7 linked regions of the Homo sapiens genome follow. The protein of the gene in region 5 interacts with the protein of the main gene of each other region in a pairwise test. Each region holds a gene or a part of one and is shown on either strand. Other genes may lie near its edges. The genes, in order: CRELD2, DNASE1L1, NEK6, MAVS, CDH1, TPX2 and EPCAM.

What was found.
Region 1: the proteins of CDH1 (region 5) and CRELD2 interact in binary tests that used the Homo sapiens proteins (3 or more experiments, as listed by UniProt).
Region 2: the proteins of CDH1 (region 5) and DNASE1L1 interact in binary tests that used the Homo sapiens proteins (3 or more experiments, as listed by UniProt).
Region 3: the proteins of CDH1 (region 5) and NEK6 interact in binary tests that used the Homo sapiens proteins (3 or more experiments, as listed by UniProt).
Region 4: the proteins of CDH1 (region 5) and MAVS interact in binary tests that used the Homo sapiens proteins (3 or more experiments, as listed by UniProt).
Region 6: the proteins of CDH1 (region 5) and TPX2 interact in binary tests that used the Homo sapiens proteins (3 or more experiments, as listed by UniProt).
Region 7: the proteins of CDH1 (region 5) and EPCAM interact in binary tests that used the Homo sapiens proteins (3 or more experiments, as listed by UniProt).

The regions. Positions count from the first base shown.
Region 1 is NC_000022.11:49,921,634-49,925,724, reverse strand, and holds part of CRELD2 (protein disulfide isomerase CRELD2 isoform b precursor), read right to left. Parts: coding exon 3,964-4,091; intron 3,855-3,963; coding exon of another isoform or gene 3,820-3,854; exon of another isoform or gene 3,731-3,819; intron 3,432-3,730; coding exon of another isoform or gene 3,282-3,431; intron 3,114-3,281; coding exon 3,018-3,113; intron 2,492-3,017; coding exon 2,408-2,491; exon of another isoform or gene 2,265-2,407; intron 1,366-2,264; coding exon 1,270-1,365; intron 309-1,269; coding exon 168-308; coding exon of another isoform or gene 55-167; exon of another isoform or gene 1-54. UniProt on the Homo sapiens protein: Protein disulfide isomerase. Might play a role in the unfolded protein response. May regulate transport of alpha4-beta2 neuronal acetylcholine receptor.
Region 2 is NC_000023.11:154,403,496-154,407,143, forward strand, and holds part of DNASE1L1 (deoxyribonuclease-1-like 1 precursor), read right to left. Parts: intron 2,161-3,648; 5' UTR 2,074-2,160; coding exon 1,939-2,073; intron 1,589-1,938; coding exon 1,500-1,588; intron 1,420-1,499; coding exon 1,333-1,419; intron 128-1,332; coding exon 27-127; intron 1-26.
Region 3 is NC_000009.12:124,344,585-124,348,973, reverse strand, and holds part of NEK6 (serine/threonine-protein kinase Nek6), read right to left. Parts: exon of another isoform or gene 1,272-4,389; intron 1,266-1,271; coding exon 1,152-1,265; intron 1-1,151. UniProt on the Homo sapiens protein: Protein kinase which plays an important role in mitotic cell cycle progression. Required for chromosome segregation at metaphase-anaphase transition, robust mitotic spindle formation and cytokinesis.
Region 4 is NC_000020.11:3,856,335-3,860,723, reverse strand, and holds part of MAVS (mitochondrial antiviral-signaling protein), read right to left. Parts: intron 3,090-4,389; coding exon 2,915-3,089; intron 1,906-2,914; exon of another isoform or gene 1,782-1,905; intron 1-1,781.
Region 5 is NC_000016.10:68,743,334-68,747,722, reverse strand, and holds part of CDH1 (cadherin-1 isoform 1 preproprotein), read right to left. Parts: intron 1-4,389.
Region 6 is NC_000020.11:31,776,618-31,781,006, reverse strand, and holds part of TPX2 (targeting protein for Xklp2), read right to left. Parts: intron 3,521-4,389; coding exon 3,369-3,520; intron 2,195-3,368; coding exon 2,023-2,194; intron 1-2,022. UniProt on the Homo sapiens protein: Spindle assembly factor required for normal assembly of mitotic spindles. Required for normal assembly of microtubules during apoptosis. Required for chromatin and/or kinetochore dependent microtubule nucleation.
Region 7 is NC_000002.12:47,379,165-47,383,553, reverse strand, and holds part of EPCAM (epithelial cell adhesion molecule precursor), read right to left. Parts: intron 3,786-4,389; coding exon 3,585-3,785; intron 1-3,584.

The sequences.
Region 1 (4,091 bases), on a different chromosome or scaffold from region 5:
CGCAAGCGTGCCCACACAGAGATGTCATGCACCTGTCTTCCGGGAATCCCCCTCTCACCATCTCAAGGCCACCATCTGTGTGGATTTCAGACCAAGCAGCCAGTCTACGTGCAAGCCCTGCGGCCCAGGGGAGGGCAGCCTGTGTGGAGGGCAGCCGTGCCACTCACCAGCCTCTGCCGGCGGCACACAGGCATCTTCCGTTTCTTCGAAGCCGTCAGGACACACACAGACGTAGCTCCCTGGAGTATTGTAGCAGTTTTCGTTTTTCCTCACACAGGTTTTTTCTGCTAGTGAGCACTCGTCCACATCTAAAATGAAAAGACTCCGTTTTAATAATTACTTTGCTCAGCAGACGCGCAGCGGATTATGAAATTCATTCATTCAGATTCATTCACATAAAGAAAGCACAACGATGACAAACGTCACGTTACAGAAAGGAGCAAAGATCAGGAAAGGCTTCGAGAGGGAAGAATTTCACGTCTCCAAGTTGGGCCCTCAACTGGTAGAAAATGCAGAGAAGAGACCTCCAGGTGGGGCCGGAAGGCCAGCATGCGCCCAGGAAGCCCACTTTCTTTTCCTTTTTTTTTTTTTTTTGAGGCGGAGTCTCGCTCTGTCGCCCAGGCTGGAGTGCGGTGGCGCGATCTCCTCTCACTGCAAGCTCCGCCTCCCGGGTTCACGCCATTCTGCTGCCTCAGCCCCCCGAGTAGCTGGGACTACAGGCGCCCGCCACCACGCCCGACTAATTTTTTGTATTTTTAGTAGAGATGGGGTTTCACCGTGTTAGCCAGGATGGTCTCGATCTCCTGACCTCGTGATCCCCCCGCCTCAGCCTCCCAAAGTGCTGGATTACAGGCATGAACCATGGCGCCTGCCCAGGAAACCCACTTTCTCCACCGGGTTCCATCCACGCCCAGGCTCACCCAGGCAGCCCACAACCATGGCAGGCCTGGACTTAAGCCTCGGGGCAATCGCCACCCAGGAGCTGGAGGGAGAGCAGAGGCGGTGGACCTGGGGAACGAGGCCACCGGCGAGAGGCTGGTGCAGCAGCGCCATCCACACCAGGGTCGGCCATGCAGAGCCCGTCCCCCACCCCCACTGCTTCTGTGTCTCACGTGGACCTCAGGGCGAGTGCACAGTGACCCTGGGGGAGCCACGTCTGCAGGACGGGTCTCAACTGCTTCCCATCCCTGGCAGTACCTGCTGGGGCCATTCACATCATGGTCACTTGGGAAGGGTCCACCAGCGTCCAGCACAGACCCCGTCACTGACCTGCACACTGTCCGTGCTCCCTCGCGTAGCCAGAGATACACTCTTTACAGTTTCCTGGGCCTTCCCCTGTGCAGCCCACACAGCTGGAGTCACACTCTGCAACAGGGAGCCAGCGTCAGACCCCGACATGCACAAGGCACCAGTGCCCGTCAGACCCCGACATGCACAAGGCACCGGTGCCGCCAGGATTTGGGTTTTCTCCTCATTCATCACCAAGTGACTTTATAACGATCTGTCTCTGTCTCCCGGCAAAAGCACAGACTCGCGTCCTGCTGTGCAGCAGGTGCTCCCGGAGAGCCATGGTGCAGACCACCTGGCTTGGAACTCTTTGGGAGAAACTGGGTGCTACAGAGATTCTAGAAACAAACCCACCTCCAGCTCGGTGACCATTGGTTTGCCAGCCTGCCAGGAGCTTCCTAAGAATAACCAGAGCCTCTCGCATGGCTTCCAGTATTAGTGGCTCACTGAGGGACCCACTGTCTGCACTCCCAACAGTGAAAACTGCCTGGGGCTGTCACACACACGGGGCAGAGGCGGCCTCCTCCCTGCTGCTGGGACTGGGGATCAGCACAACTTTTCTGGGGCACTATGGCTCTAAAAGACACATTCCCTTGACTGAGCGATTTGGAAATTAATCCACAGAAAATCATAAGGAATGTGAAAAGTTTACCTTCAAGTGTTCACAGTTTATAAGTTGAAAAACTGTTATGACGTAAACGTCCAGCAACAGACATTGTTGTAAAAGTATGAAATAATGGCTCCAAAATCATTAGCGTGACAGAGAAACCACAGGACGCAGAGACGTTCGCAACAAGCTGCTGAGTGGAAAACACCCGACAGGCGCTGCGGAAAGTCACGCAGGGCACGTTGCGGGGGCGCTGGGGGGGCACGAGCAGTGGAGGCACCAGCAGGGTGCGCTCTCCAGGGAGTTCCTGGGTTTTTAACTGTTTTCTTTTCATCTGACTTGAATTTTCTGATTTTCCTGCAGCAAATACCTATGACTTACTTTGCCACACTAAGTGTTCTCAGGGCAGGCAGGATGTATGGAAGTGACACTAAGAAGCCATAAATGAATGTTGACAAAGGCAGCAACGAAACCCGGCAGGCCCCGGAGTGCAGACCCGCCCGCCTGGCCCACCTTCGCACGTGTAGGAGCCGTTGGCGTTCTTACAGAACTGCGCAGCGCTGCAGGGAGGCGGCTCGGCCGCACACTCGTCCACATCTGGAACAGAGCGGCACAGCTGTGAGCGGCCCAGGACAGCCCGGCCAGGGAGCGGGGAAGGACCGATCATGGCCTGACACAGCCCGTGGCCAGGGCCGGCTGGGGAAGGGCAGGGAGGAGGGCAGCCCCTGAGGAGGAATCATCTCAAATGCCATCCTCGGAGGCCCCACGCGGCAGGGGAGGGGATGAGGCGATGGCCAGGCCCTGTCCTTAGACACTCAGTGCCAACCGGGGCAGGCGCCCCATGAGGATGGCGACACATTGTGTGAGAGTGAGACAGTGAGTGCCCCCACACCTCACGCCCCCACCTCACGCCCCCACACCTCACGCCCCACCTCATGCTCCCCCACACCTCACGCCCCCCACACCCCAAGCCCCACACCTCACGCCCCCACCTCACGCCCCCACACTTCACGCCCCCCTGCCTCCCGCCCCCATGCCTCACACCCCCCACGCCTTACGCCCCCATCTCACACCCCCCACGCCTCACGCAGGCGCCCTCCTCCACCCCCGGGCCGCTCCTCACCCACACAGGCGCCCTCGTCCAGCACCCAGCCCACTTCACACTCGCCGCAGTCTCTGTTGGTCAGGCCCGAGCACGTCTTGCAGGACTCGTCACAGGCTGGAAGGCAAAGGCGGGCCTGGGTACAAACCCCACTCTCAGGTACCAGCTTGGGGACAAGGCTCGTTTAAAAGTGAGGAATTTAAGAGGGAAAAGCAACACGGGATTTTCAGTGCCCATGAATTTAAAATTCTCAGCAAACCAGGACTCCAAGGAATTTTTAATAACCTGGAGAGAAGGCAGCTATCCATACTCTGGAGCTGTAGCCTGGCTGGGTGTGCGTGTTCCGGCCACGGATCCATGCGTGGCCCACGCCACGCCAACATCCAAGAGACAGACAGCAAGGCGGGTAAGAATCGGAGAGGCCGGTCCTGACTGCTGAGGGGCGTAAGAATCGGAGAGGCCGGTCCTGACTATCGATCCACGGGTCTGTCTGCCCAGAATAGCCTAGGGGCTGCCGGCCAACCACACACTCACGTCCGAGACACTCAGAGTTTTCCTACATATCAGTGACAACCAGGGAGAAAACGTCCTTTGGAAAGATGCCACTCATAACGGCCTGCAGGGATTTGACAGATGCTGCTCTCTGGGCCGGTGCGGGGCCCACACGGCACCTCCAGGACCTGTGCACTGCATGGCCCATCACAACTCAAGGTCGGGGTGGACCTTGAACTAGAGAGAAAGGTGAGTAGCTTCTCCCTTCTGAGGGCTGTTACGGGACAGGAAGTGCCCGACAACCTCTGCCTCTATCCTCTGATGTTTTCATTCATCCTTCTGGGCCCTCGAAGCTTCCTTGGACATCTGGGGTTAAAGATCAACAGGCCCCTGTTCCCATCTAGGCAGGCAGCTCCAGCAAGGGGCTCTTGTCATCCCGCCTCAACCCCGGGGCCAGCCCAGGCGTAGCCCGTACCTGTGCAGATGCTGTGGGTCTCGTTCCGGAGCGAGCTGAAGTAGCCGTCCATGCAGTCAGTGCACAGCGGGCCCTGGTACCCCATGTGGCACCGGCAGGACCCGTCGCCCTGTCTGCTCCCATCTCCG
Region 2 (3,648 bases), on a different chromosome or scaffold from region 5:
TACCAAGCCCACCCTTCCCTTCCTACCATTGCTGGGCAAAGAGAACTGGGCCACAAATGGCTCCCGGGCAAAGACGTCATCCTCATCGTTGTACACGTAGGAACTCAGGACCTGTGTTTTGTGTGACCTGGGAGGACAAAGGGATGGGCAGCAGTGGCCCCACGTCTTTGATTTTGGCTTGCAAGTGCCAAACGGCGCTCAGGGAGGGGCCCTCCACTAACAGCGGCAATGTGGGCACAGCCCTCCCAACCTGTCTCTAGAACTTTCAAAAATCAGGCATAATTCATATGCCATAAAATTCACCTGCTTCAAGTATACAACACGGTTCTTTTGTACATTCATAAGGCTGTGCAACTATTTCTACAATCAATTTTAAAACATTGGTATCCATTACTCCTAATAAAAACATAACATCCATTACCAGTTACTCTCCATTCTCCCCTCCCCCCAGCCCCTGCAACCATTAATCTGTTCTCTATCTTGTACATTTGCCTATTCTGGATATTTCATATGAATGAAATCAGCTCATCAATGTTTTCTGCGTTCGTCCATATGCTGTGGCACGTCTGTGCTTCATTCCTCTTTCTGGCTGAATAATATTCCACGGACTGGGTATAGTACATTTTGACATTTGGACACTTTGATGTCATTCTTTTTTTTTTTTTTTTTTTTTTTGAGACATGGTCTCACTCTGTTGCTCAGGCTGCAGTGCACTGGCACAATCATAGCTCACTGCAGCCTTGAACTCTTGGGTTCAAGTGATCCTGCTGCTTCAGCCTCCCAAAGCGTTGGGATTACAGGCATGAGCCACTGTACCCTGCCTACCCAGTAATTTTGGAGCGCATACCAGATGTCATATCATTTTATTTATATAGAGAATCAGTTCTCCTTCCCTGCAGCCTCCCTTGCCCTCTGGATCCTGACTCCAAAGGGCTCCCTGCCAGCCTGTCCTCCCAGGGACTTAGAAGATCGGGTCTACCCAAGGCCCATAAGTGGTCCCCACGGAGCCTCTTCCCAGGAGCTGCAGCCCTTGCTGGCCACTTTCATAGAGGGGGCCAGCCACACCCTGAGCCCCAGCAGCTCCCACAGGAGAGAGGAGGAGGGACCCCACATTTGTGCTTATAGAAGGAAGGCCTCCTGCTCTATGGACACTCTGGCGGGGGTCGAGGATGGGAAGAGCCCAGAATAAAAGGTGTTGAGAAGAGAAAGCATGCAAAGCAGGTGAGGCTGTCCCAGGATGGGGGGCCTGTGGCCCCGGGGACTAATGAGCCTACCTCACATTAGGGCCAAGGACCGCCCCCCACCCTGCTGCGCTGCCAGCTCCGTGCTCACCGATAGAAGTACACATACGTCTCCATGTAGGTGCTGCGCCCCAGCTGGGGGCTGCTCAGGGTGCTGTAGGGCCCAGAGCCATCAAATCTGCCAAGAAAAGGGGAGGCGGGGTCAGGGCCTCAAGCCTCTGGGTGTGCCCCTGATTAGACCCACAGAATCTTCCTCACCGATTGAGTTCTCGAAGCAGGAGCGGGATGGCGCTGCCGGAAGAGTCCACCACCTCCTGCAGCACCATGATGTCACAGCGAGCCAGTATCTGTGGGACATCAGGAAGGCCAGCCTGACTCAGTGCCAACTGCCCTGAGAGGAGGCAGTGGGCCCAGGGGACTGGCACTGTTGTGGCCCAGAGTGTTAAGGCTCACTGACTGCAGCCCACAGAAAGCAGTGGGACTGGAAATGCCCCAGGAAAAGACTCATCCCACCCACATGTCACCTGTTTCACAGAGGAGGAGACTGAGGCCAGCAGCAGGCAAGCGCCTGCGCTGCATCTCCGTGCCACACCTCTTCTTCTCCCCTCTTCTCTAGAACATACCCCTGGTCAGGCAGGGATGGGGGCTTTGGCTCATGGTGGTTAGGGGCACGGCTTCCCTGAAGTGATGAACTTACCCGAACTAAGGTGTCCATCACCTGCTCCCTGGCCACCTTGGCCAGTGTCAGCCGCTGGGCATTGAAGGCGCAGATGCGAAAGGCCTGGGCCCCATTGGCCAGGATGAGGAAGAGGAGTGCAGTTGGGTAGTGCATGGCTGTGTGTGGCTGCCGGGGACACCCCAGGAATCCAGGCTGCCCCAGGGTGCGCTCTCACTGGGCTCAGTTCTGGCTCTGGAAGCGCTGAAATATGGAACAGAGAAAGTGGCACTAGCTGCTGCCCAGCACCAGCCTCCCAGTGACCTCCCGAGATCATACCACTGCACTCCAGCCTGGGTGACAGAGTGAGACTCTGTCTCCAAAAAAAAAAATTGTTTTTGAGACAGAGTCTTGCTCTGTGAAGATCAAGCCAAGATCGCACCACTGCACTCCAGCCTGGGCGACAATAAGACTCCGTCTCAAAAAAAAGTGAAATCCTACAGTATTTGTCTTTTTGTGACTGGCTCATTTCACTGAGCAAAATGTCCTCAAGGGTCATTCATGTTGGAGCATATGTCAGAATTTTTTTTTTTTTTTTGAGACGGAGTCTCACTCTGTCGCCCAGGCTGGAGTGCAGTGGCGCAAACGCGGCTCACTGCAAGCTCCGCCTCCTGGGTTCACGCCATTCTCCTGCCTCAGCCTCCCGAGTAGCTGGGACTACAGGTGCCTGCCACACGCCCGGCTAATTTTTTGTATTTTTAGTAGAGATGGGGTTTCACCATGTTAGCCAGAATGGTCTTGATCTCCTGACCTCGTGATCTGCCCGCCTCGGCCTCCCAAAATGCTGGGATTACAGGCGTGAGCCACCGCACCCGGCTGTAGAATTTCTTTCCTTTTCATGGCTGAATCATATTCCATTGTCTGGGCATCTGGGTAGACCACATTTTGTTCATTCATTCATTCATCCATCCATCTGGTTTTTTTTTTTTTTTTTTGAGACGGAGTTTCGCTCTTGCTGCCCGGGCTGGAGTGCAATGGTGCGATCTCGGCTTACTGCAACCTCTGCCTCCCAGGTTCAAGCGATTCTCCTGCCTCAGCCTCCCAAATAGCTGGGACTACAGGCACGCTCCACCACGCCCAGCTAATTTTGTATTTTTAGTAGAGATGGGGTTTCTTCATGTTGGTCAGGCTGGTCTCGAACTCCTGACCTCAGGTGAACTGCCCACCTTGGCCTCCCAAAGTGCTGGGATTACAGGTGTGAGCCACCGTGTCCTTTTTTTTTTTTTTTTTTTTTTTTAAATAGAGACAAGGTCTCACTATGTTGCCCAGGCTGGTCTTGAACTCCTGGGCTCAAGCAATTCTCCTGCCTCAGCCTGCTAAAGTGCTGGGATTGCAGGAATGAGCCCTGGTGCCCCAGCCTCATGCATCTCTTGACCTCGTGATCTGCCCGCCTCGGCCTCTCAAAGTGCTGGGATTACAGGCGTGAGCCAGAGCGCCCAGCCCCTGCTTTCAGTTCTTTTGGGTATATACCCAGAAGTGGAATTGCTGGATCATATGGTAGTTCTAGTTTTAATTTTCTGAGGAAGTGTCATATTGGTCTCCATGGTGACTGCACCATTTTACGTTCTCGCCAACAGTGCACAAGCGGTCAAGCTTATTCTTTTATTGTTTATTTATTTGGGACAAAGTCTTGCTCTGTCGCCCAGACTGGAGTGCAATGGTGCCATCACAGCTCACTGCAGCCTCCTGAAT
Region 3 (4,389 bases), on a different chromosome or scaffold from region 5:
CACCAAAGACATGCCATCAAGAAGCACGATGGCTCCGTGGCTGCGCATGTGGGTTCAGATCCTGCCTCACCGGTCTTTTTAACTTGCCTGTGTCTGTCTGTTCCTTATTGGTAAATGGGTGAGGGGAAGATTCAACTCAGGAAGTCTGAACATGAGCTGTTATTATCGTGAGGTGACGGCCTGTGGTCCTATGGGGTGGGCCCACGGAGGCCCCAGACTCACCCACTAGCGTTGACCTTGAACAGAAATAAGGGTCACATGATATTTAGTGAACACTGACTGAGCCAGGCCCCATCCATTGGCCACTTTGGATGGTGGTGGCAGTGTTAGCCTGGTGCCTTACCTTAATCCTTATGCTGATCCTGTGTGGAAGATTTAATATTATCCCCATTGTATAGGTGAGGAAACTGAGACTCAGGGAGGTTAGGTGACTCACCTAGGAACAGTGCAGAGAGTGTGTGAACATGTATCTACACTTTTGACCCTGCTGTGCCAGGAAACCTGTCCTTTCTTCCTCACCATTATCCACCAAGGAGATTATTAGTCCCATCTTCAAGGTGACGGAGCCGAGGAATAAGATATTCACACATTCCTAGTAACTGGTACAGCCCCATGCCAGACCCATGGGAGCTGTGTCCACGGCTCCCGCAGCCAGTGTAAAATGTTGACAGTAGAAGCCCAGGGTGTTAAGTCTGTTATATAAGGAGGAAACTGACCGGTCCTCCTGCCGTAGTTTCCTGTCATGGGAGCAGAGTGGCCACCACTGGTGGTATGGGGACGCCAGGCCTGCCACATCCTGCCCCTGTATCAGTTCCCATGTCTGGCACGGCACAGACCCTGTCCTGGGGACCTGCAGCAGAGGGCCTCCCACTGGAGCACCAAGTTGGGAGCTGAACAGGTGGAGATGTGCCAAGGGCCACGTGCCACTGGTTCCTACCTGGGGGTCCCACACTGGAGCTGCGTGGTGAAACCCCTTCTTCAGTGCAATCACCTACTTTCCCCTCTCCAAGTCACTTTTCCAGAAAGCTCCCTTTCTGCACCGTGTAAAGTGAGCCTAACCTCAGCCCCACAGCTGTGGTGTTTTGGAGCGGCCCTCATAAGCCTCGGTGGCCTCCTGGGGCTGGCGAGGCCTCCGGCTCCTGCAAACTCACCTTCTCGGAGTAGTGCTCCCCGGGGAGTGGGGGGTAGTCACACTGCTCGATCTTCTGGCACAGGGAGAAGAGATTCATCTTATCTCCATAGAAGGGGCTCTGGAGGGCTGCCATCTGCAAGGGACGGGAACAACGAAGATAAGCTTTCGGCCTCAAGGCTCAGAAGGACTAGAGAGGAGGAGGCTGCTCCAGATTGTTGGGGCATGGGTTCTCTCTGGTCCCGACCGCGGCGAGTCCAGCAGGACTTCTCCCCCGAATCACCGAGCATGCTGGGGTTCAACAGAGGAGCAGGCGCAACACTACCCTGATTCTGTCACTGGATTAAGTGGGCACGAGGGTTTCGGTGACAAAACTTTCAAGGCAATAAAGAAGGGCAGCTGGACGCTGCAAGCTAATTCCCACCTTGCTCCCACCTCAGCCCGGGGGACCCAGGCTCCATGTGGCAGGTTGCCGAGTGCATGGTCTTATTTCCATAAAACGCGATTTTTCCAAGATGCCTGCAGGGGCAGGTCTCTGTGCCCCACATGTTCAGAGAGCTTTCCTTACCTATGGACTGACATTTTGGGGTGGGGTGGGCCGGAGAAGGGTGAGGCATTTCACTGTGGCTGTTCTTGCCAGCCCCTCGCAGAGCTGCTGCCTGTGGAAGCCAGCTGCCGGTATCAGGGCAGGGGGAGCAGGGGGTTCAGGAGGGAGGGAGGCAGCCTCCTGCCCCTGGATAGAGGTGCGCAGCAGCATGTTGGAGGGAACCTTCAGGGTGGGAGGGAAGCGCCTGGCTCCACAGCCAGCCCTAGCTCTGTCCCGACCCCAGCTCTGCACTCGCTGTGTCTCTGGACTTCAGTTTCCTCATTTGTAAAATGTCCCCACCCACAGGCCTGTGGCGAGGCTTGGGCTGGCACACGGAGGAGGCACCACCAGCAGGGCCAAGACCGCCTTTGATGAGGTGAGGCCTGCGGCACCGGTTCTGCCCTGAAGGCCGGCCACAGCCACGGGGGAGCGAAAGGCCTGTGGGGCGGTGGCCTCCTGTGAGTTCTCAGCTGTCAGGGTGCTGCCAGGCTGCCCCACCACTCAGGGCACTCACAGGGGACTCCTCAAGGGGGTGTGCAGGGGCCACAGTGGCCCTGAGGCGGTGGCGCAGCAGCCCAGCGTGGCACCTGCTGGCCCCATTATGAACCCATAATGGGAAAGAGCTTCTCGTCACTCCAGCTCACTGTGGCTGCCTGCCTCCCGGACCGCCCCCCGAGGCCCAATGCCTCCGGCTAGTGAAGTGCCGTCGGGCGAGTGCCCTCCTGCTGTCTGGCCCCGGTTCCCCCCCGGAGGGGCCACCCTGCTCTGGCTTCTTGGCCAAGGGCTCCTGGGCGCCTACCGAGGGGCCCTGGGATACCTGGGGAACCGTCGCTTGTCCTCGCGCCCCAGAGGCTGAGCGGGGAGGAGTCCTTGGTAGCAGGGTTTGAGGGTGCCCGTCAGCTTGGGTTTCCTGGTCTTGCCCCATTCTGTGTTCGTCCATGAACAGGTCTGGTGACCCCAAGGGCCTGCCTCCTTCAGGAGGGCGTGGAGGAGCTTCAGAGCCTGGCACCATCCTTGGGTTTGCAGATGGCCTTTGGGGAAGCTGCTGAGTGCAGCCTGGAGACTGTGGGCTTTCCTCAGCCCCAGGTTCAGCACCCTCGGGACCAGGAGCCCAGGCCAGGCCAAGTGCCTTCAGGTGGGTGTTTAGGGACAGCATCACCTCTGTCTTCCGGCTGGCTGGGAGCTTGGGCCCCTCAGAGAAGGGCTGGGAACCCATGTGGAGCCTGAAACCCACCCTTGGAGGAGGGCTGCAGGGAGGGTCTGGCCAGGCAGGGGAAGTGTGAGGATGCAGAGGCCCTGCCCATTTTGGGGTCTGCTGACCTGACCAGGAGCGGGCTGGGAGCCTGCCAAATGCACCACCCAGGTGACGCATGTCCAGGAATTAAAATGAGACTCTCGGGTGCAAAGGGTTAATCGGGCATTTTCAAAGGACATCTGTTGCCATAACAGAGAGCAGCTGAGACTCCAGGACGGTCACCTGGGGTGATCTGGGTGCCCCCGAGTTGCAGCTGGAGGATTAAGGTGGATTTTCCTGGACTGTTACTGTGCAGCGTAGAAGGGACATTTTGAGTGTTGGTCCTGTGAACGCAGGCCCTGGTTTTTCATGTGGCTGACCCCGGAGAGGAATCAGCCGATCTTCAACTTCAGATCATGCCCATTTGATCTCAATTTTATAAACCTCGCTGCTGGGAACTCCAAAGGCCCCAGAACGCTGAGGGGAGCATTGAGCCCCCAAGCTGGCATCCACTTCCCATCATGTCTCTGCTCTTTCCAGCACTTTCTCCACATCGTTTCAGAAAAGCCTTTTGAATGGGGTCAGCAGTGAGCTATGCCAGAGGACCCCTCTCGGCCTTCCCCAGGAACAGGCCTCCTCCATCCGCCCCAGCCTGCCCCCACTCTGCTGCCGGCCATGGGCCTTCCACCCTCATCAGGGCAATGGGCTGTGAAGAAAGCTCTGGGCTGCGCGGATTACAACGATTACCCTGGACGGCGAGATCTCCTTCTACCAGTGACCACCCAGACTCTGACTGGTCGAAATAGAGAGGACTCACTGTCTGGGGCCTCGTTAGAACTGCCGAGGCCACGGCTCTCAGCGCTGCTCCTCAAATGCCAAGCCCTTCTCTCTGGTGTCATCAGGGTGACATATAGCCGAGGAAAAGGGGGTGGGTGGGCCCTGGCCCCCACCAGGAGGGCTCAGAGAAGCTGGTGTGTGATCTGAGATGTCAGAGGGACAAGGGGAATCTGACTCCTGCCTGTCAGGGCCTCAGACACCCATCTTGTCACCCAGTGTCTCTCGAGCACATCCCAGACAGAAGGGTGACTGGAGGCCAGGAGGTCTGCAGCCCTGCTCCTCCACCACGGAGGGGCGTCCAGGCCTCTCTGCCGTCCAAGCAGCATTCCAAAGCGGCGTCCCGGCCAAGGCTCCGCAGATCTTCCCCTTGAGTCCGCTGTCTCGCTGGGTCTCAGTCCCAGCTGGGCACCTCAAGGCTGCTGCGAGGAGGCCCCCTATGAGGATCCTGGGACTGGCACTGAATGAGCCAATTCCTCTAGCTCCGTAATTGCAGCTGAGCTCCCACATAGATAAAAATCAGTCCTGCAGAGCGGGCAGCCCGCTGGGCACCTCCATGGGCATCTAGGTAACGAGAACAGAGCCCGGCCTTCCGATATCCCAAGC
Region 4 (4,389 bases), on a different chromosome or scaffold from region 5:
GCCTGGGCAACAGAGCAAGACTCCGTCTCGGGGGAAAAAAAGAAAAAGAAGCCAGACGTGGTGGCTCACGCCTGTAATCCCAGCACTTTGGGAGGCCGAAGTGGGTGGATCACCTGAGGTCGTGAGTTCGAGACCAGCCTGACCAACATGGAGAAACCCTGTCTCTACTAAAAATAACAAAATTAGCCAGGCGTGGAGGCGCATGCCTGTAATCCCAGCTACTCGAGAGGCTGAGGCAGGAGAATTGCTTGAACCTGGGAAGTGAAGGTTGCCATGACCTGAGATTGCACCATTGCACTCCAGCCTGGGCAACAAGAGCGAGACTCCGTCTCAAAAAAAAAAAAAAAAAATAGAAGGAATCAGGGACTATAGGGAGGCTGAGGAAGGAGAACCACTTGAACCCGGGAGGCAGAGGTTGTGGTGAGCCGAAGTCATGCCACTGCACTCCAGCCTGGGCGACTGAGCAAGACTCTGTCTCAAAAAAAAAGGAATTGGGGGTTCTCCTCATGATTAAAGAGGCTTGGGTGCTCTTGGGTACACCCCCCGCCCCACCCATAGGTCCAAAAGCTGTTCTGATGTGGGCCCACTCCTCAAGAGTGACAAGCAGGGCTGGGCTTGGTGGCTCACGCCTGTAATCCCAGCACTTTGGGAGGCCGAGGCGGGTGGATCACGAGGTCAGGAGATCGAGACCATCCTGGCTAACACGGTGAAACCCCATCTCTACTAAAAAATACAAAAAGTTAGCCGGGCATGGTTGCAGGCGCCTGTAGTCCCAGCTACTCGGGAGGCTGAGGCAGGAGAATGGCGTGAACCCGGGAGGCGGAGCTTGCAGTGAGCTGAGATGGCACCACTGCACTCCAGCCTGGGCGACAGAGCGAAACTCCATTTCAAAAAAAAAAGGAGTGACAAGCATCACTTGGCAAGGGGGCAGGAGTGGGAGGGTGAGAGCAGATGGAGGACAAGGTAGCAAGGGAGGAAGGGGAGTATGGGGGGGCCTCGTGGGTCTCTAGTCACCCACGCCGTGTCAGCAGTCACTCTTCTCTGTCCCCAGGCATCCTAGGACCCAGTGGCTTTCTCCTCCACATGACTATCATTGCTCACTGACCCCTGCCCTGATGCTGCCACCTGAGCCCCTCCCCTTTGCCCCCACCCCTCATCAGGCCCTACCACAGCCATTGTATTCAGGGGATCACTATTTTTGGGTTTTTTTTTTTTGGAGACGGAGTCTCACTCTGTCATCCAGGCTGGAGTGCAGTGGCGCAATCTCGGCTCACTGCAACCTCCACCTCCCCGGTTCAAGCAATTCTCCTGCCTCAGCCTCCCAAGTAGCTGGGATTACAGGCTTGCACCACCATGCGCAGCTAATTTTTTTGTATTTTTGGTACAGACAGGGTTTCACCATATTGGCCAGGCTGGTCTCGAACTCCTGACCTTGTGATCCGCCCGCCTCGGCCTCCCAAAGTGCTGGGATTACAGGCGTGAGCCACCGTGCCCAGCCAGGGATCACTATTAATCTCCACACATGAAGAGACATATTTAAAAAGAAGGAAGGAAAAAAAGGAAGGAAGAGAGGAAGGGAGGGAGGGAGGGAGGAAAAGCAAGGAAGGGAAAAAGGAGAGAAAAGCAAGCATGAGAGCCAGACGCGGTGGCTCACACCTATGATCCCAGCACTCTGGGAGGCCGATCGCTTCAGCCCAGGAGTTTGAGACCAGCCTGGGCAACATAGTGAGATGTCATCTCTACAAAAAATTTAAAAATTAGCCAGGTGTAGTTGTCCATGCCTGTAGTCCCAGCTACTCTGGAGGCTGAGGTAGAAGGATCACTTGAGTCCAGGAGGTCAAGGCTGCAGTGAGCTATGATTGCACCACTGCACTGCAGCCTGGGTGGCGCAGCAAGACTCTGTCTCTAAAAGGAAAAAAAAAAAAGAGAGAGAAAGAAAAGAAAAACATGGATGTCCCACAGCTATAAATGTGACCAGGGTCTCGGGGGTTACCTCTAGTTTGAAATATAAATAGGGCTGGCTTGATTTTTTTTCCCATGTCTTTTTTTTTTTTTTTTTGAGATGGAATCCCACTCTGTCGCCCAGGCTGGAGTGCAGTGGCGCGATCTCAGCTCACTGCAACCTCTGCCTCCCTGGTTCAAGTGATTCTCCTGCCTCGGCCTCCTGAGTAGCTGGGACAACATGCCCGGCTAATTTTCTGTATTTTTAGTAGAGACGGGGTTTCACTGTTTTAGCCAGGGTGGTCTCCATCTCCTGACCTCATGATCCGCCTGCCTCGGCCTCCCAAAGTGCTGGGATTACAGGTGTGAAACACCGCGCCCAGCCTCCTCCCATGTCTTGATCTCACTCAGGATCAAACTCAATCTCATCAAATCGCCTCCGAGCACTCAGAGTGGCAGGGACACTGAGAGGGACTTAAAGAATAACTGGGCAGCTGATAGAGGGCGTCGAAGGCTCTCAGGGTAAACCAGGGGAGGGGAAGAGAAGGAGGAGAGAGGGAGGGTGAATGAGTAGGTGGGGGAGAAGAAATGAGGAAGGGTGGGAGGCGAATGCTACAGCCGTGAAAGTTAGGGGAGACTCCATGTGCTGGGCATACAGGAAGTGCCCAGCCCAGCTCAATACTCAACACGCATCGTCCCGCAGTATCACCCACTGCAGCTCCCCGCGGCAGATGCTGCCATGAGCTTCATTTTACAGAAGAGAGGCCTGAGGCTCAGGGAAATTAAGGGACTTGGCCAAAGGGACACAGCTGGTAAGTGGCTCAGCCTGGATCTACACCCAGGTTTATTCATCGCTTCACAGTGACAAGAAAGAGGATGACAGAGAAAGGCAGGAAGTACAGGGAGAGAGAAAAGGAGAGCGGAGGCCAGGGAGCAGGCTGGGGGTCCAGGAGGGCAAGGGCAGGACGCTCACGAGGCTGGTAGCTCTGGTAGACAGAGGCCACTTCGTCCGCGAGATCAACTAGCTCACAGCCCCTCAGTGCCGCAATGAAGTACTCCACCCAGCCGGGCCGCCGCTGAAGGGTATTGAAGAGATGCCAGAGGGTGTCCCGGTTCCCTGAGAGTGTGCAGGTGGCCCGCAGTCGATCCTGGAAGACACAATGCCACTGTCCTGCTCAAGCCAGGTGGCCCCTGCCACTTCCCCACCCAGAATGAAGCCACAGCGGGGGGAGGGGTGCCAAGAAAGCCACAAGGGCAAGGCAGCCACGTGAAACTGGATCGGAGCCCAGGACAGGGCCAGGTATGGAGTGAGGAAGAGCAATTAGCAGCCACATCAATAAAGGCAGCTGCCGGAAACTGGCAATTAACTATGTCCTGGGCTCTCCATTAAGGGCTTTGCATGTATCATCTTTATTTAATGCCATTATTATCTCCACTTTACTAATGAGGAAACTGAGGCTTAGCAGAAGCAAAGTACTGTAGCAAAGATCCTAAAACAGTGGGGCAGGAATCCAAACCCAGTTAATCTGATACAAAAGCCTTGGATTAATATGGCCCCCAGGGCAAAAAGAAAGGTTTGGATTAGGAGAGAAGGAAAAGGTAGATAGCAAAAGTATGATGAAAGGGGCAAAAGACGGAAAGAGAGGGGGCCGACAATAACAAACAAGGAAGCTGAGAATGCTGGGGAGATTGTGGGCAGATGACAGTGGCTGCAGAGTTTTTTTGTTTCTTTTTTTTTTTTTTTTTTCAGACGGAGTCCCACTCCGTCGCCCAGGCTGGAGTGCAGTGCCGTGATATCAGCTTACTGCAACCTCTGCCTCCTGAGTTCAAGCGATTCTCCTGCCTCAGCCTCCCGAGTAGCTGGGATTACAGGAGCCCACCACCACACCCGGCTAATTTTTTTGTATTTTTAGTAGAGACATGGTTTCGCCATGTTGGCCAGGCTGGTCTCGAACTCCTGACCTCAGGTGATCCACCCGCCTTGGCCTCCCAAAGCGCTGGGATTACAGGCGTGAGCCACCGTGCCCAGCCCTAGAGTTTTTATGTCTACCTGAATTCTCACATAAAAACAAGCAACCAGACAGCAGAAACAAAAACCCACAGAATCCTGCAGGAGCTAGATTTTTAGAAAAAGGAAAATAGCCAGGTGCGGTAGCTCACACCCGTAATCCCAGCACTTTGGAAGGCCGAGGATCACAAGGTCAGGAGTTCAAGACCAGCCTGACCAACATGGTGAAAGTCCGTCTCTACTAAAAACACAAAAATTAGCCGGGTGTGGTAGCATATACCTGTAATCCCAGCTACTCAGGAGGCTGAAGCAGGAGAATTGCTTGAACCCAGGAGGCAGAGGTTGACCCAAGATGGCACCACTGCAACTCCAGCCTGGAAGACACAGCGAGACTCCATCTCAAAAAAAAAAAAAAAAAAAATGCTGGGCGCAGTGGCTCA
Region 5 (4,389 bases):
CAAGGTACAGAGCAGTGCTATCATATGCTATGCTTTGTGTAAAAGGATCATATGTTAGGAATTTACGCTGGCATAAAGAAAGAAGACTATGCTTGTATTTCCATAAGGAAACACTGAAAAGGATACACAAGAGACTAATGAAATCTGTTCCCTGTGCCCCAGGGAAGAACTGGGTGAAGCGTGGTTTGGGGTGGGAAGGAGACTTCACTGTCTGCCATACAGACATATATACAAGCTTTTTCATATATATATGAAGATGTATATTTAAACTTATTTTTTAACCGGGTGAATAATTTGCCTATGAAAAGCCCAGAAAGAGAAAACCCTCCATGACCCACGGCCCAAGGCCCAGAGGTACCCTGGCCCAGCTGCCTCTGCAGCCTCATCCTGGGACCCTCTCCTCCCTCCTCTTTCTGTGCCCAGGAAGGCACAGCTCCAGCCTTCTGCCTCCATGACCCTGCCACACCTTTGGGTACCCCACTTCCTCCTCCTGGAGTGCCCTTTCCCTTTCCTTGCATGGAAGACACCCTCTTACTCATCAAGGCCCAGCAGGTGAAGCTGACCACTCCTGGCATCCCCTGAACACATTCTCATTCCAGTGGCATTCTTGGAGCCTACTGGAATTACCTGCTGAGAGGTCTCTCTTGGAGATTTTCTGGAATCTCCCTGAGTGTAGGGGGTGAGTCTTAGGCCTGGGTGCACTGGATACTTCTCTGGGTCCCCCACTCCCACACCCATCCACCCCACTTTGGTGTGTTTGTTTGTTTGTTTGTTGAGATGGAGTATCGCTCTGTTGCCCAGGCTAGAGTGCAATGGCACAATCTCCGCTCATTGCAACCTCCGCCACCCAGATTCAAGTGATTCTCCTGCCTCGGCCTCCCAAGTAGCTGGGATTACAGGCATGCACCACCACGCCCGGCTAGCTTTTTTTATATTTAGCAGAAACGGGGTTTCACCATATTGGCCAGGATGGTTTTAAACTCCTGACCTCAAGTGATCCTCCCACCTTGGCCTCCCAAAGTGCTGGGATTACAGGCATGAGCCACTGCACCCAGCCTCCCATCCACCCCTCCTTGCATCCATAGAGTTCTCAATCCTGGGCATGGCAGAAGCACCAGCCTATCCCTCCCTGATCAAGGGTGTGACCTGGGATCCCTGGCCTTGGGCTGGACAACCAGGTGCCCACATCCTGGCTGGGGTATTTACTCATCAAACATCTAGCCCCTGGGATTGTCCAGGGAAATGCATTGAGTGGCAGCAGATATCTGAGGAGCTTGCTTATTTATTTTATTTATTTAGAGATGGAGTCTCGCTCTGTTGCCCAGGCTAGGGTGCAGTGGCACAATCTCGGCTCACTGCATCCTCCACCTCCCGTGTTCAAGCAGTTCTTCTGCCTCAGCCTCCCAAGTAGCAGGGATTACAGGAGCATGCCACCACGCCCAGCTGAATTTTTGAATTTTTAGTAGAGATGGGGTTTCACCACGTTGGTCAAGCTAGTCTCAAACTCCTGACCTCATGATCTGCCCGCCTTGGCCTCCCAAAGTGCAGATTACAGGCGTAAGCCACCGCACCTGGCCTGAGGAGCTTTTAAAAACATCAAATTCAAGGCTGGGTGTGGTGGCTCACGCGTGCGATCCCAGCACTTTGGGAGGTTGAGGCAGGCAGATCACCTGAGGTCAGGAGCTTGAGACCAGACTGGCCAACATGGTGAAACCGTCTCTACAAAAATACAAAAAAAATTGCCAGGCGTAGTGGTGCATGCCTGTAATCCCAGCTACTTGGGAGGCTGAGGCATGAGAATTGCTTGAAGCCAGGAGGCGGAGGTTGCAGTGAACTGAGATCGTGTCATTGCACTCCAGCCTGGGTGACAGAGCAAGACTTCATCCCAAAAAATAAATAAGTAAGTAAATGTCAAGTTCAGATCTCCACCCTTGGAGATTGGCTCTCAGTGAATCTGCAAGAGGGCAAGTCTGCATGAAGTGCCCTAGGTGATTTGATTTTTAGCCACAAGGATCTCAGGGGCTGGGACAGAGCGTTTTTGGCAGCAGGAGAACAGACAGGTATTCTTAGGCATGTGCATCATGAAATATATATACATATATATATATATATACACATACATATATATACACATATATTACACATACATATATATATACATATATATATATATTTTTTTTTTTTTTTTTGAGACAGGATCTCTATCAGCTGGAGTGCCGTGGTGCAATCATGGCTTACTGCAGCCTCGACCTCCCGGGCTTCACGCAATCCCCCCACCTCAGCCTCCTGAGTAGTTGGGACTACATGCACATGCCACCACGCCCAGCAAATTTTTGCATTTTTTTGATGCTAGTACCACAGGTGCACGCCACCATACCTGGCTAAATTTTTTTTTTAATCTTTGTAGAGATGGGGGTCTCGCCACGTTGCCCAGGCTGGTCTCAAACTCCTGGGCTCAAGTAATCCTGCGGCCTTGGCCTCCCAAAGCACTGGGATTACAGGTGTGAGCCACAGCATCTATCTGGCCTGGATAACTTTTAAAAGCCAAGCAGAAGCTGACAAGTTCAAGATCATCCCGACTCCCCCGGCCCTAGCTGCGCCTTGCCCCACTCCTCCCACTCCAGTTCTACACAACCTCCACGAGCAGGTCCCCTTTCCTAAGCCACAACAAACCCGTTCCGGTCCACCCTGAGCACCCTGCACAGTGGCAAGCAAAAAAACGCCAGTTTCTTCCTAACAAGGCACTAGGCTTAGTCACTGTTTGCAGTGCACTGTTTGCTTAACACAGAAGCAGGCAGGGTGAAGAAACTGGTTTGGCTGGTTTGCTGGGTGAGAGGGAGCGCAGGGGATCTTTTGAACCAAACGTAAAACATGGGAGACTTTCAAACAGACAGCACCAAGTCCTCCTGGGGCTCTAATATTTCATATTCACTGAACGCTTGACATACCATCCTATGATGTCTCCATGCTATTATGCTCATTTTACAGAGAGGGAAACTAAGTCCTTGGCTGACATCCCTAGGCTGGGAAGTGACATTGTCTGGATTGAAATCTAGGCAGTCTGATTCAAGAACCTTCTGAATTTGGGGAAGATGCCACCCAAATCTTGGGCAGAAGTGGAGGATTGGAGGCAGGTAAGAGGAAGGAAGGAGGAAGATGAAAAGTGCAGAAAGGGAGGAGGCCTAAACCCCAGTCCCCCAAGAGTAACAAGAACAAGCTGGGACACTGAGATCCCTGGCCTAGGGAAACTTACATTAACAAAGAGGAAGAGAGAAAGAAAGGGAGATGGCTAGAGATGGGGATAGAGAGAGAAAGAGTGAGCATGCACCACAGATTTCTTTTTATTTGACCAAAGGTGGAAAACACTTAAAAATGGCTATATGCCCTCCCATTTCCAGACTCAGGTTTGAGATCTCCCTGCCTGCCCTGCACAGCTGTTCAGAGGGAAGCTATGAACACAGTATCCCCAGCACACACAGAGCATAATGGAAGGTTCTAACCCACCAAATTCTTCCCCGCCCATTTACAATCAACCTTAAGGGCTGGACCAAGTCCATAGAGTTTGAGAGGGAAAAATATTGGCCAAGATAGCGATTTATTCATGTGTTCATTCATTTGCTCAAAATAACATTGAGAGTTTACTGTGTCCCTAAGAAATATCAACTACTGTTGAAAATATTCTCTCTACTTTCTCTCTTTACATTCCTGCCCATTGGCATGTATGTTCCGTCCAATCTGCCGTAACCTCAGGGTCTAGCCTGGTGCTAACACACAACAGGCACTCACTTTTGTGAACTAAATGAATGTACATACTTAATTCTCATAATAGATCAATAAGTATTACCGCCCCATTTTACAGGTGGGGAAACTGAGACTCATAGAAGTAAAGTGACTTATTCAAAGTCAAATAGCTAGTGGCTAAAATTCAAACCTAGTTTCCTGTACTTCCTCGCTGAAGGATCCTAAACAGCCACTGCTGAATGATTTCATTCTCCTTTTTGAAAGCCTTGTGCCCTCAAAGGAGATAGAGCTGAGGCAGGATAGAAACCCAGGAAGGGGCCCGGCTCGGTGGCTCACGCCTGTAATCCCAGCACTTAGGGAGGCTGAGGCAGGTAGACCACTTTGAGCTCAGGAGTTCAAGACCAGCCTGACATCATGGTGAAACCCCGAATCTACTAAAAATACAAAAATTAGCTGGGCATGCTTCTGCGTGCCTATAATCCCAGCTACTCAGGAGGCTGAGGCTGGAGAATCACTTGAACATGGCAGGCGGGGGTTGCAGTGAGCTGAGATCCTACCTCTCTACACTCCAGCCTGAGCGACAGAGTGACACTCCGTCTCAAAAGAAAGAAAAGAAAAGAAAGAAAGAAAGAAAGAAAGAAAGAAAGA
Region 6 (4,389 bases), on a different chromosome or scaffold from region 5:
TGGACACTGAAGTGAGCCATGATCACGCCACTGCACTCCAGCCTGGGTGACGGAGCAAGACCCTGTCTCTAAAAAGCAAAACAAGAAGGAAAATAAATAAATAAATAAATAACAAAAGAAGACCAAGTGAAAACTCCCAATTTTATGAAATCAATATAAAAGCATCAAGACCACATCTTACAGAAAATCAAATGGAGAAAGTTAAAAACTATGTTAAAGCATCAATATTAAGACATCACCACCACTCATTGAAAATATTAATTTACCTGGCCAGTGAAACCTTGTCAATTTTCATAACTAATATAGAATGAATCTTTCAATTTAGGTCTTGTCACATAACAGTGGTAGATCAAAACCAAATCTATTTTAGAAATAAGCCATGTTTCAAAGATACATGTAACCATTATTTAGCTGTAACTGTACAAAGTTTTAAATAAAAATTGCATAATATAATTTCTCTTTCCTTTTGCCAGGACTAGTATTCTGAAAGCAGGACATATCAGACTCTGAGTCATATATTATTTGAAAAGTTATGCTTAATATTTAAATTTCCATTAGAATAAAGAAGAATATTTCATTATTTTCATACTATAAAATCTAACAAAATCATTTTGGCCACTAGAACATAATAATAATATTAAAAAATGCTGTACTTGGCCAGGCGCAGTGGCTCACACCTGTAATCACAGCACTTTGGGAGGTTGAGGCGGGCGGATCACTTGAGGCCAGGAGTTCAAGACCAGCCTGGCCAACAGAGCAAAACTTGGTCTCTACTTAAAATCCAAAAAGTAGCTGGGCATGGTGGCACACACCTGTAATCCCAGCTACTCGGGAAGCTGAGGCACGAGAATCTCTTGCACCCAAGAGGTGGACGTTGCAGTGAGTCGAGATCGCGCCACTGCACTCCAGCCTGGGTGATGACACCCAGAACGAGACTCTGTCTCAAAAAAAATGCCTATGCAAGGATATAAAAAATTTAGAGATCCTCAAAGGTAAAACAACCACATTCTGCTTTATCCAGAATACTATCCCTATACTCCCAACAACTATTTAATACCACCTCCACCCTTCAGATTTCATCTTCCTTCTTGCAGAAATTATTTCCATAAAGATAGAAACTATTACATTAGAATCCGCTCATCTGCTCACCACCAAATCTACAAACTCCCCCAGTATTTGCACCCATTCCTCCCACTCTTCCATCCTCCTTTTAAAGAACACTCACTCCACCTGTGCTAAGTATCCCTCCAATACCTGCCTGCTCAGGGACTTAATCCATTAGTTATCTCCTCTCTCTCGTACCTTCAGCTTCTTTATCTCTGACGAGACTTCTCAACATTCAGACATGCTCTCCCTATCTCCCACCTCCTTTGACTCTTGCACCTCCCTCCTCCTCAAAATCCCCTGCCATAATTTGTAGTGACCTGTTTATCTAATGACAGTTTAAGAATGCAAAGAACTAATTAGTGTATCTCTAATGACAGAGATAAATAGGTCACTACAAATTATGGTAAAGGCTTTTGAAACTTGATGTCGAGTTTTGAAACTTGAATTAGAAACCTGATGTTGAGTAGCACCAAGTCTATTTTATTTACCTCTATATACCTAACACAGTGTGCCTGGTTAGTAGTAGTAAAAATTTTGGTGGACCACTGAATAAAAAGCACATAGCCTTGAATGAATGAAATGCCTTCATTTTCTATAGGTAACTAAATGCAATGTGACACTTTGACACATGGCAAAAAAATGTCCGTTAAGGATGTGTAATGACATCTCAGGTTACCTTAACTCATTCCCCTTGGCCAATTATTGATGAGGAGGATCAAGACGGTTGATGGGTATAAGACAGACAGCTGGGTGGTTTGAAAAATTCTGAAGGATACATTTGTTGTCTGCATAGTCACACGCCATACTTTAATTGAAAAACTAGGATTTCAGCTAAAGACAAATCTGTGCCTAAGATGTAAGCAGAGGGAATGTAGGAGAGGTTCCATCCAACTGTGATACTGGTAGGAAACTTACTAATATCATCCTTCTTGCTCCTCAAATGATATCTGTTAGGGGTTCGTTTATGGAAGTCTTCAACTTGCTGTGCAAGGGGCACATATGTAGAAACTGTTTCATCAAATGTTCTTTTCTTTCCTTGGGACAGGTTGAAAGGCTTAACAATGGTACATCCCTTAGTCACTCGGGCCTGTAAAGAGAAAAGTTGTTCCCCAAATGAAATGTCACGGAAGAGCTCACATCTACCATAAGCCACATATTCGGCACAGAGGATCAATAAAAAAGGCCTGTGTAAAACCAAGATTATTATTCTGAAGTTTGTCAGTCCTTGAGCAAGGGTTATAACTAATCTGTTCTCATTAAAAAAAATTAAAAATGGAAGAAAGGATCTAGCACTTAACAAATCTTATGTTCTGGAATAGTACATAGGTAATTTCCCCCCAACCATGTCAATGTTTTGAAGGAATCCAGAGTAAGCTATCTTAGAATTGAAGACAAAAAGCACTGCAAAGAAATCTCACCCTCAACTCCACTTTAAAAAAAAAAATTGATTGGGCCTCTGGGTATGCATCAGGTCAGGCAGCTTCCTGAATCAGTGGAATCTCTCCATACATCCCCTAAAGAGACTGATGAAGAAGCCTATTCCTATTCCTTGGACCAGTAATTTTGATAAAACTGGTCTCTAATTGGAAGCAAAACCCTTCAAGGACCTGTATCTCAAAGAAAGAAGCATAACCTCAGGGTTTAAGAATGCAAATAACTAATTTCAAAAAATGATGATACTGACTACAAATGCAAGTGGAGATTATTAGTACTAGCATTTTTACTTAACGATTATTACTGATTTTGTTGGTGCTCTGGTAACAAAACTGCATGAGATTTGACTGGTCTGCCCCAACCCTATTTTTCCTATAAGATCTGTTATATTGGCCAGGCATGATGGCTCACACTTGTAATCCCAGCACTTTGGGAGGCTGAGGCAGGTGGATCGCCTGAGGTCAGGAGTTTGAGACCAGCCTGGCTAACATGGGGATACCCTGTCTCTACAAAATACAAAAATTAGCTGGGAGTGGTGGCAGGCGCCTGTAATCTCAGCTACTTGGGAGGCTGAGGCAGGAGAATTACTTGAACCCGGGAGGCGGAGGTTACAGTGAGCCGAAATCGTGCCATTGCACTCCAGCCTGGGCGACAAAAGTGAAACTCCATCTCAAAAAAAAAAAAAGATCTGTTATATTTTACACAACTTTATAGACACAAGGTTTTTTTTCTCAATTATACTATTATAAACAGTGACCACAAATGCTACACGTAAAATCCTAAATGAATATTAGTAACAGAAATGTTCATTTAGTCCATCAACTTACAGGAGATGAAGGATGCTTTCGTAGTTCAGATGTAAAGTTCACTTCCTTATATTCCTCCTGGTTCTTAGGATGTTGTTTGATTCGCTCATCTGTGCGGAAGTGGAAGTCAACTGATTTGGTGACCTGGCTCACTGATTTCTTCACAGGTTGCCCTGAGAGATGAACACAGTAAAACATACAGACAACATTAAGATAGGGAACACCAGTAAATCCCCTTTACTCCAGTCCTTTTGCTATTTCTGTCACCATGGATCTAACTTTGCTTACTATCTACCTGTAACCCAAAACTTGAAGTAGTCCTCAGGGACACTAATATATGTGTCATATTCACTGAGTACTATTAGGTTTGAGGCCTTTCAGTCAGATGCAAACTAAAAAAAAGTAGTAGCACAGGGTAGAAGAATCCCATCTCCTAGGTGTGGTCATAGCTATGGAGAAAAAGAATAACTGGAATACTTTTGATAAGAAAAGCTATGGATTGACTTTGAAAGCACAGTTAACTCAGCATCTCTAAGAGGAAAATCCTATAAACTCCAGGGGTGCTTTTTCAATCCAGTAAGGAGAACTTTATAGTTATGACTCCACCAATAACAACTCTATGCCCGAGCAAAGCAGAACTGTGACCCCTTCAGCTCTCTCAGTCATATTTTTCCTCCACAGGTGAATTGGATTTGACTGTTTTCTTTTCCTTTGCCTTTAGAAAAAAATAGGAAAACAACAAACTGGTCTGCCCAATTACTTTATCTTCTGTCTCAATCCAAGTTCCTTTTTTTCCCTAAGACCAAGAACAGACTTTTAAGAAAGTACCAGTGAGCCAGGCACGGTGGCTCATGCCTGTAATCCCAGCACTCTGGGAGGCTGAGGTGGGCGGATCACCTGACGCCAGGAGCTCGAGACCAGCCTGGCCAACATGATGAAATCCCATCTCTACTAAAACTACAAAGAACTAGCCAGACGTGGTGGTGGACCCCTGTAATCCCAGCTACTCAGGAGGCTGAAACAGGAGAATTGCTTGAACCCG
Region 7 (4,389 bases), on a different chromosome or scaffold from region 5:
AGGCAGGCGGATCACGAGGTGATGAGTTCGAGACCAGCCTGGCCAATATGGTGAAACCCTGTCTCTACCAAAAAATACAAAAATTAGCTGGACATGGTGGCTTCTGCATGTAGTCCCGGCTACTCGGGAGGGTGAGGCAGGAGAATCAATTGAACCCGGCAGGTGGAGGCTGCAGTGAGCCGAGATCATGACACTGCACTCCAGCCAGGGCAACACAGAGAGACTCCTTTTCTTTTTTTTTTTTTTTTCAGATGGAGTCTCGCTCTGTCACCCAGGCTGGAGTGCAGTGGTGCAATCTCGGCTCACTGCAAGCTCCGCCTCCCAGGTTCACGCCATTCTCCTGCCTCAGCCTCCCAAGTAGCTGGGATTACAGGTGCCCGCCACCACACCTGGCTAATTTTTTGTATTTTTAGTAGAGACAGGGTTTCACCGTGTTAGCCAGGATGGCCTCGATCTCCTGACCTCGTGACCCAGCTGCCTTGGCCTCCCAAAGTGCTGGGATTACAGCAGTGAGCCACCACGTCCGGCCAGCGAGACTCCATTCCAAAAAAAAAAAAGAAAGAAATTTAACAGTTTGGTGTGCATTCTTCCACATCCTCCTTTTCCACACTAATACAAATATCATATATAAACACATGCATCTAAGTTTTGGGGTCTAAAAATGGGACCATGCAGTATCATCACCACCTGTGCACAGCTTGTATCAACATCATAGCAACCATTCCAGATCCAAAGATAAAGATCGAACTCATTCACCATTCACATTATTCCCTATCGTAGATACAATAAACATAATTTACTCTCTTACTGATACACACTCAGGCTATTTTCCAGATTCACTTTTGTTGTTGTTTTTATTCATTTTTTGAGACAGAGTTTTGCTCTCGTTGCCCAGGCTGGAGTGCAATGACATGATCTCGGCTCACTACAACCTCTGCCTCCTGGGTTCAAGTGACTCTCCTGCCTCAGCCTCCTGAGTAGCCAGAATGACAGGCATGCACCACCATGCCTGGCTCATTTTGTATTTTTAGTAGAGACGGGGTTTCTCCGTGTTGGTCAGGCTGGTCTCGGACTCCCAGCCTCAGGTGATCTGCCCACCTCAGCCTCCCAAAGTGCTGGGATTATAGGCGTAAGCCACCACGCCTGGCCAGATTCACCTTTACAAGCAATGCTATGATACAATAACAATGTGCTTCCTTATTGCACTTGTGTTTTCATTTATTTCTACAGAACAATTAGACTTCCAGCATTAACCACTTGTGTTCATTTGCCATCTGAAATTTCTATTAACTGTCTATCCCTACCTGTTGTCATTCTTTCTTTAGGTTTCCTCATCAATTTGTAAGAACTCTTTGTATATTATGTATAATATCCATTTTTGCTTTATGCGCCATATTTTTTTCATGCCCATCGTTATTTTTTACTTTACAGTTTCTTTGCCATATAAAATGCTTAATTTTAATGAAGCCAAAATATATATATATAGGACTAGGTGCAATGGCTCATGCCTGTAATCCCAGCAGTTTGGGAGGCTAAGCCAAAAGAACTGCTTGAGCCTAGGAGTTCAAGCCCAGCCTCGGCAGCCATAGCAAGAATTCGTCTCTACTAAAAATTAAAAAATTAGCCAGGTATAGTGGCACATACCTGTAGTCCTTGCTACTTGGGAGGATAGGTCAGGAGGATTACTTAAGTCCAGGAATTGGAGGTTGCAGTGAGTTATGATCATGCTACTGCACTCCAGCCTGGGTGACACAGCAAGACCCTCTCTCAAAATATACATACACATATATGTATCTTTTCTTTCATGGATTCCAGATTTCTTGCCTTACATAATTTCCCCTACCACAAGGTTGTACAAACATTCCCTCAATTAATTTTCTTGGGAGTTTACTTTTTTGTATTTTTAAATATGTAAATGTCTTTGAAAATGGATACACTGCCCAACGCCTTTCCTACTACTGTGCTCTGGACATGCCACCCTCACACAGCTGGGCAATATGGCCAGCCTGGTGGAGTGAAATAGGAATTCAACTTTCATTTTGTTCCAGATGGATAGCCAAACATGGTTGATTGAACTGGAAATCTAAGTTCCTAAATACCCTCAAACCTCTTTCTGAATTCTGTTGTGTTAGTAAGATTTCTTTTTTTTTTTTTTTTTTTTGAGACGGAGTTTCACTCTTGTTGCTCAGGCTGGAGTGCAATGGCATGATCTCAGCTGCAACCTCCACCTCCTGGGTTCAAGTGATTCTCCTGCCTCAGCCTCCTGAGTAGCTGGGATTACAGGCATGAGACACCATGCCCGGATAATTTTGTATTTTTAGTAGAGATGGGGTTTCTCCACGTTGGTCAGGCTGGTCTCGAACTCCCGACCTCGGGTGATCCACCCGCCTCAGCCTCCCAAAGTGCTGGGATTACAGGCATGAGCCACTGTGCCTGGCCTTTTTTTTTTTTTTTTTTTTTTTTTTTTTGAGACAGAGTCTTGCTCTGTCACCCAGATTAGAGTGCAGTGGCATGATCTTGGCGCACTACAACCTCTGCTTCCCAGGTTCAAGCTATTCTCCTGCCTCAGCCTCCCGAATAGATTACAGGCATGTGCCACCACGCCCAGCTAATTTTTTTGTATGTTCAGTAGAGACAGGGTTTCACCATGTTGGCCAGGCTGGTCTCGAACTTCTGATCTCAAGTGATCTACCCGCCTCAGCCTTCCAAAGTGCTGCGATTACAGGCCTGAGCCATCACACCTGGCCAGTGTTAGTAAGATTTCTTGATACCGAAGCATCCTTACATTCCTAAAATAAACCTTTCACTTCTTCAAGCAATACATTCTTTTGCTGAAGCACTGTTAAATTCAATTTGCTCATCTTTACTTGGAAGTATTGATTCACATATCACTTTTAACTCTTTTGTATGGCTAACGTTAACTTTGTGTTCTGTTGTTCCATCTTATTGAGTGGTTTGGGGGTTCAGGTATTTTGCACTAGGTGTTGAATTGTTTGCAGTGACAACTGAAAGACGCTTGCTGCTAGATGGCAATTTAACTGGCCTGTGAGGTGCACAGCCACAAGCTTTTTAATATTAGCATCCTTTCTTGCTTCATAAAATGACTTTTGTAAAAAGAGACCAGAGATACAATAGATTCATTCACCATAAAAAAATTATTTAAAAATGAAGATTTTTTTCCCTGAATGTTTTGGAATATGGATGTTACTTTTTCATATTTCCTTTTTTCTTCTTTTTGAGACAGGGTCCTGCTGTGTTGCCCAGGCTGGAGTGCAGTGGTGTGATCATGGCTCACTGCAGCTTTGACCTCCTGGACTCAACTGACCACTCCCACATCAGCCTCCTAAGTAGATGGGACCACAGGTGCAAGCCATCACATCTGACTAATTTTTGTATTTTTACTACAGATAAGGTTTCACCATGTTGCCCAGTGTGGTCTCAAACTCCTGGGCTCAAGTGATCCACCTGTCTCAGCCTCCCAAAGTGTAGGGATAACAGGTGTGGTGAGCCACCGCGCCCAGCCACTATTACTTTTTCTTGAAAAAATATACCCTTAAATGAAATTTTACTTGTTCTGTACTCACCAGCACAACAATTCCAGCAACAACTGCTATCACCACAACCACAATAACAGCAATAACACCAGCTTTTAGACCCTGCATTGAGAATTCAGGTGCTTTTTCATCAACATAATAAATTAAAGTTTGACCAGGATCCAGATCCAGTTGTTCCCCATTTACTGTCAGGTCCATTTTCTTAGAATGAAACAAGGATTCACCTTTAACCTGTATTGAAAAGGAGAAAAGGAATTAAAAATATTTAAGGAAACCAACCATGGCCACATATAATTACATACAAATTGTATGCCAAAAGAACCGCTGCCAAGAATCTTTATGGTTTTAGTGATAACAATCTAATTTATTGGAACTTTAAAAAACTGTTTATTACAGGAACCTTTCAACATACACGAAAGTAGAAAGAGTAGTGCAATGATGCCCATGTACCTATCACCCAGATGCAAGGCCAACAACACATAGCCTCTCTTACTTCATCTTTTCTTCCTTTCATCCTTTCACCCCCGCCCAGATTATTTTGAAGCAAACCTCATATTTCAGCAGAAAATACCTCACTATAATATATTAAAGTTTCAACAAAATATTTTAATCATATCAGTTACAGTCTTTTTTAACAGACTTTTATTTGTGTAAATTATAAATATCATAGGGGAGCATATATGCACAAACTAAGTAACCACCAAGTAGATAATAAATAAGAATTATAAGAAAGAGGGGAGATATTTTAGGCAGAACAATTTGATAAGAGGCATAAATATACAAACAAGCAAGATGCATGTGAGTGACAGGGAGGACAAAATTAACGGCAGCAGCG